2 separate regions of the Homo sapiens genome follow, and region 1 is linked to region 2. The links come from fine-mapping of genetic effects on gene expression. A gene starts in region 2. The other region holds a variant in brackets. All regions are shown on one strand. Distances are between the middles of the regions.

Region 1 (2,908 bases), 210 kb after region 2:
TTTAATATTTGGAGGAACTGCCAGACCGTTTTCCATAGCAGCCACTCCATTACACATTCCCACCAGCAGTGTGCGAAGATTCCAGCTTCTCCACTTCCTCATCCACACTTATGGTCTGTCTTTTTGAGATCATATTCTTTTTTTCTTTTTTTCCTAGACAGGGTCTCACTTTGTTGCTCAGGCTGGAGTGTAGCTGCCTGAACACAGCTCACTGCAGCCTTGACCTCCAGGGCTCAAGTGATTCTCCTGCCTTAGCCTCCCCAAATGCTATGATTACAGGTGTGTGCCGCCGCACCTGGCCAGGAAAATATTCCTGCTGGTCATGCTACACTGTAGAGTCTGCTGGGCTTGGGTTCAAATCTTACCAGTTGTGGGATGATCTCAGACAAGTGGCCTCTTTGTGTCATTATCTATAAAATGGTGGAAGAATTCCTCCTTTCCAGGCTGTCAAAAGATGAACTGAGTTAGTGGCAGGATCAGGACTGTGCCAACTGTAAAGTGAGGTGCACGTGTCTTGTTTTTATAACTGGGTACCCTGGGTATAAAGTCCCTGAGATCCTGACCTGTCTGGCTCACCAATCTCTCCCCAGCATCTGGCACTGGACCTGGCATACAGTAAGCACTTGGTAAATGCAGACCCTTGGCTGCTGCCCAGGAACCTTTCTTAGGGGAGGTAGCTGAGTCCACCTGGGGCAGTCCAGGAGCTACGTGGAGAGCAAGGCTGCGCCCCACATGTGGCTGCCACATGACTCACAGCCAATGCTGAGGGCCTTGAAAGTTTTTCCTTCCCTAAGAGGAAACATTATTTCTGGCTAGGCACAGTGGCTCATGCCTGTAATCCCAATGTTTTGAGAGGCCAGGTTATGAGGATCACTTGAGCACGGGAGTTTGAGACCAGCTTGGGCAGCATAGCGAGACCTCACCTGTACAAAAAATAAAATTTAAAAAGCCAGGCTTGGTGACACACACCTATAGTCCCAGCTATTCAGGAGGCTGAGGCAGGAGGATCGCTTGAACCTAGGAATTTGAGGCTGCAGTGAGCTATGAGCAGGCAACTGCACTACAGCCTGGGCTACAGAGCAATACCCTGTCTCTCTCTAAAAATAAAAAAAAAAAGATTAAAAATTAAACTTAAAAAGTATATT[C/A]ATATTGTTGTGTGACCCTCGTTCATCTCCAGAACTCTTTGCATCTTGCAAAACTGAAACCCTACGCCCAACAAACAGCAACCTCCCATTCTCCTCTCCCCCAGCTCCATCAACCAGGACTTTTTTTTTTTTTGAGATGGAGTCGCTCTCTGTTGCCCAGGCTGGAGTGCAGTGGCACGATCTCTGCTCACTGCAACCTCCCTCTCCCAGGTTCAAGCAATTCTGTCTCAGCCTCCCAGGTAGCTGGGATTACAGGTGCCCACCACCATGCCCAACTAATTTTTGTATTTTTAGTGGAGACGGGGTTTCATCATGTTGGCCAGGCTGGTCTCGAACTCCTGACCTCAGTTGATCTGCCCACTTCAGCCTCCCAAAGTGCTGGGATTACAGGCATGAGCCACTTCGCCTGACCCATCAACCAGTATTTTTAAAGCACCTACTAAGTGCCAGGTGCTAGACCTGTGGTCATGAACACGTTCCCTTGCTTCATGGACACTGGTACCCATTTTTTAGGTGAGGAAACTGAGGCACAGAGAGAGAGGGAGGCTCTTGCCCACAGCTCCCACCACAGCTCCTTCTCCCATCAGCGGCAGGGCAGGATTTGAACCCCAGTGTCTGGTGCAGAGGCCAAGCTCCAGCTGCTTAGCCCAAGATGAGTCACTTCCCTACATGGGGGCCTCAGTTGCCCCATCTGTGAAATGGGGATCAGGAAAGAGCTGGGTTAGTGATGATGATGCTGAGCGCTCAGGCCCCTTCCCTCTGAGCTTAGAGAAGAGGAGGTCGCCATCCCTGGCCCCATCTCCCCCAGTTCCAGTCCCCAACATCAGCTGCCTTATGGCTGGAATCACCCTTGCCATTTTCTTTAAATTGAGACAGGCCTTTCTGCAGAAATGGGTCCCAGACTCACTCCTCCACTCTCAACCTGGCCCAGCCCCAGCCCCAGCCCTGAGGGCCCCCAGCAGATAGCTGTCTGTCAGGGAGGTGTGAGGGGCCCTGTGTTTACCTTCCTCTCCACTGCCAGACATCTGCCTGTTTACTCCGGACCCTCAGAGGGTTCTCTTTCCCACCCCAACCCCCACCATGGAGGGAGCAGCTTTTGGAGAGGCCATACTCCTCTCCAAGCCTCAGTTTCCCACTTGCAAAATGGGTAGAGCAAACCCTACCTCACAGCCTGTTCTCCCTCTCATCCCCTAGGCTTCTGTGCTCAGTGAGTTAATTATTAGGGTTTGTTTCTTTGTAAATGTTTCACGCTGGAGGTGAACACATCACTCCTATTCAGGGGTACACACACACACACACTCTCTCTCTCTCTCTTTCGCCTCCCCACCCAGCAATTCTAAAATTTCACTTTCCAGCTGTTGGACCTCAGGAGAGATGCTGCTATTTTCAAGCTGAGGAGGAAGGAGCTACCCCACAGTCCCTGAGTCAGCTCAATTTAGTGAAAACACTAATGATGAAAATGGCATGGCTCTGGGCCGGGCACGGCGGCTCACACCTGTAATCCCAGCACTTTGGGAGGCCAAAGTGGGTGGATCAACTGAGGTCAGGGGTTCAAGACCAGCCTGGCCAACATGGTGAAACCCTGTCTCTACTAAAAATACAAAAAATTAGCCTGGCGTGGTGGCGCATGCCTGTAATCCCAGCCCCCAGGAGGCTGAGGCAGGAGAATCGCTTGAACTCAGGAGGCAGAGGTTGCAGTGAGCTGAGATCACACCCCTGAACTCCAGCCTGGGCGACAGAGTAAGACTCTGTCTCAAAAAAAA
Region 2 (2,908 bases):
ACTTAGCTCAATTCCCTCATGTATTCAGCAAACAGTTACTGAATATAATATGCTACTCTTCTAGTCTTGTAGCAGGACGAGCCGCAGACAAAACCTCTCAGACACCGAGTTGTAGAAGGAAGGGCTTTATTCAGCTGGCAGCATCGGCAAGCTACTGCCTTAAAATCCGAGCTCCCCGAATGCACAATTTCTGTCCCTTTTAAGGGCTCCTCACAGCACTAAAGATTTCACATGAAAGGGTCGTGATTGATTTGAGCAAGTAGGTGGTACGTGACAGGGGCTGCATGCACCAGTGGTAAGAGAGAAACAGAACAGGGCAGGGAGTTTCACAACGTTCTTCTATACAATGTCTGGAATCTATGAATAACATCGGTTTCTAAGTTATGAGTTGATTTTTAGCTACTGGGTGTGAGGCCTCTGAGCCCAAGCCAAGCCATCGCATCCCCTGTGACTTGCACGTATACATCCAGATGGCCTGAAGTAACTGAAGATCCACAAAAGAAGTAAAAATAGCCTTAACTGATGACATTCCACCATTGTGATTTGTTTCTGCCCCACCCTAACTGATCAATGTACTTTGTAATCTCCCCCACCCTTAAGGTACTTTGTAATCTCCCCCAACCTTAAGAAGGTTCTTTGTAATTCTCCCTACCCTTGAGAATGTACTTCGTGAGATCCACCCCTGCCCGCAAAACATTGCTCTTAACTTCACCGCCTATCCCAAAACCTGTAAGAACTAATGATAATCCACCACCCTTTGCTTACTCTCTTTTCGGACTCAGCCCGCCTGCACCCAGGTGAAATAAACAGCCATGTTGCTCACACAAAGCCTGTTTGGTGGTCTCTTCACACACGTTTGGTGGTCTCTTCACACACATGAAACTGGGTTTAGGCCAGGCAGGCCCAGGCCTGGTTTCGGGCCTGGCGCCGGGCTGCCCGTCTTTGGTTTCACTTCCTTGTTGTTTCTTCTTAAAACAGGTACTGAGTATAAAACAATATAAAACAAAATGAGAGGGTCTCTCTCTCCCCCAGTCTCTGGGACAGAGCAGAGAGCAAGAACAAAATCGCTGTGCTCGTGGACTTTACATGCTAGGGCGGAGCAGGTCCTCAGAAAATCATCAAATGTACGTTAAATGTATAAGGTAAATGGTGATGAGTCTAAAGTGAATGGGGGGAATGGAAGAGAACGAAGGTAGGGAGAATGTACATTAAGGGAAAGGGAGGGTTGCAATTTTAGAAAAGGATGTCTGGGCAAGGGCTCCCTGAGAAGATGGCATTTGTACTATAGAAACACAGTATCTATTTTCCAGGCCCGTAATGAAGGTTTAATAAGAAAATGCATGGATTCGTAAAAAATCTTCAATAGGCCCCAAATGGACCTACAAGACCTCGACCCCAATGGATGAGGGAACGCTAACCACAGCAGAACGGTAATCGCGGCGAACGTTGGCACAGACGGAAAGTTGATCTGAACGGAAAGTTGGTCCGGGGGAAACATTAGTTATTGAGGAACGTTAATCCGGAACAAATCTTAGGCAGAAGCGGAACTTAGACCAGGACGCACAGTTACCATGGCAATGACGCGCGCCCTAAGGGCGGTGGCAGCGACGCAGAGAGACCTGGGAGGAGACAGAGGCAGGGCTTGCGACGGAAGTGGCCTCTCTGCTTCTGCAGGGCTGGGGAAGATGCTGCGTCCAGCGTTACCGTGGCTGTACCTTGGCCTCTGCAGCCTCCTGGTGGGGGAGGCAGAGGCCCCGAGCCCCGTGGATCCGCTGGAGCGGAGCCGGCCGTACGCGGTGCTGCGAGGGCAGAACCTGGGTGAGCGGCCCTCGGGCTGGCGGGCGGCGGGTAGTGCCTGAGCTTTCACTGCTCCGGGTGCTGGAGCCGGGCATGTACGGAGCGGACAGGGGATAGAGTGGGGAGATGGGTGAGTGCGGGGGGTGCAGGTGAGGCCCCTCAGGGGGCCCCGAGACTCCCTCTCCAAAAGCCTGGGGCAGAAGGCCTGAACTTTGCCTCTCAGCAAGTGCTCAATATGTGCCAGAACCTTCGCCTCCCAGGTTCAAGCAATTCTCCTGCCTCAGCCTGCCGAGTAGCTGGGATTACAGGCGCACACCACCACACTTGGCTAATTTTTGTATTTTTAGTAGAGATGGGGTTTCACTATGTTGGCCAGGCTGGTCTCAAGCCTGGCATGGTGTCCAGTAAGCTCTCAATATGTACTGCTTGCCCATGAATGAACTGCAATCGGGAGACCTGGGTCTCATTCTGGGTCCTCTCCTCTCTGGCAGTGTGGGCTCAGGCTAGGCAACAAGGCACATCATTTACCCCACCCCTCTTCTTTCCCAGAGGAGCCAGTATTTATTGCAAAAATGATAACAGTTTTTGAGCATTTCCTACATCCCATGTCTTGTGCTACGCACTTTGTATACGCGAATTCATTTGAGCCTTACAATAACTTAATGAGAAACGTACGGTTTGCAGCCCTTTTTTTTTCTTTTACAATAGTGTCTCCTCTGTCACCCAGGCTGGAGTGCTGTGGCACGATCTTGGCTCACTGCAGCCTCGGCCTCCTGGGTTTAAGTGATCCTGCCACCTCAGCATCCCGGGCGAGTAGCTGGGACTACAGGCGTGCACCACCACACCTGGCTCATTTTGTTGTTGTTGTTGTTTACTTTTTGTAGAGGTGGGGGTCTCGAACTCTTGGGCTCAAGCAATCCTCCTGCCTCGGCCTCCCAAAGTGTTGGGATTACAAGTGTGAGCCACCGCACCTGATGTTGCAGCTCTATTTTTCAGATAAGGAAAATGAAACTCAGAGAAGTGAAGTTATTTGCCCAAAGTTACATAGCTAGGAAATGATGAGGCCAATACTAGAACCTGTTTGGGGGCTTGAAACATAAGTTGTGGGAGG

Evidence for each region. PIP is the estimated chance that this variant, and not a neighbour inherited with it, causes the effect. A credible set is the group of variants that fine-mapping cannot tell apart.
Region 1: its variant is the best candidate, but not a certain one, in a credible set for the expression of C12orf76 in anterior cingulate cortex (GTEx, PIP 0.85).

The regions. Positions count from the first base shown.
Region 1 is chr12:109,834,878-109,837,785 of GRCh38, reverse strand. No RefSeq gene overlaps it. Among named protein-coding and RNA genes, the nearest start is that of TRPV4, 2.9 kb to the right of the region's middle. The variant C/A (reference allele first, on the strand shown) is at 1,146.
Region 2 is chr12:110,047,273-110,050,180 of GRCh38, reverse strand. It overlaps C12orf76 (chromosome 12 open reading frame 76), which reads left to right and starts at 1,659. Exons shown (of 2, transcript NM_001389625.1): 1 at 1,659-1,818. The coding sequence starts at 1,686. RefSeq lists an enhancer at 711-970 and a silencer at 1,891-1,950.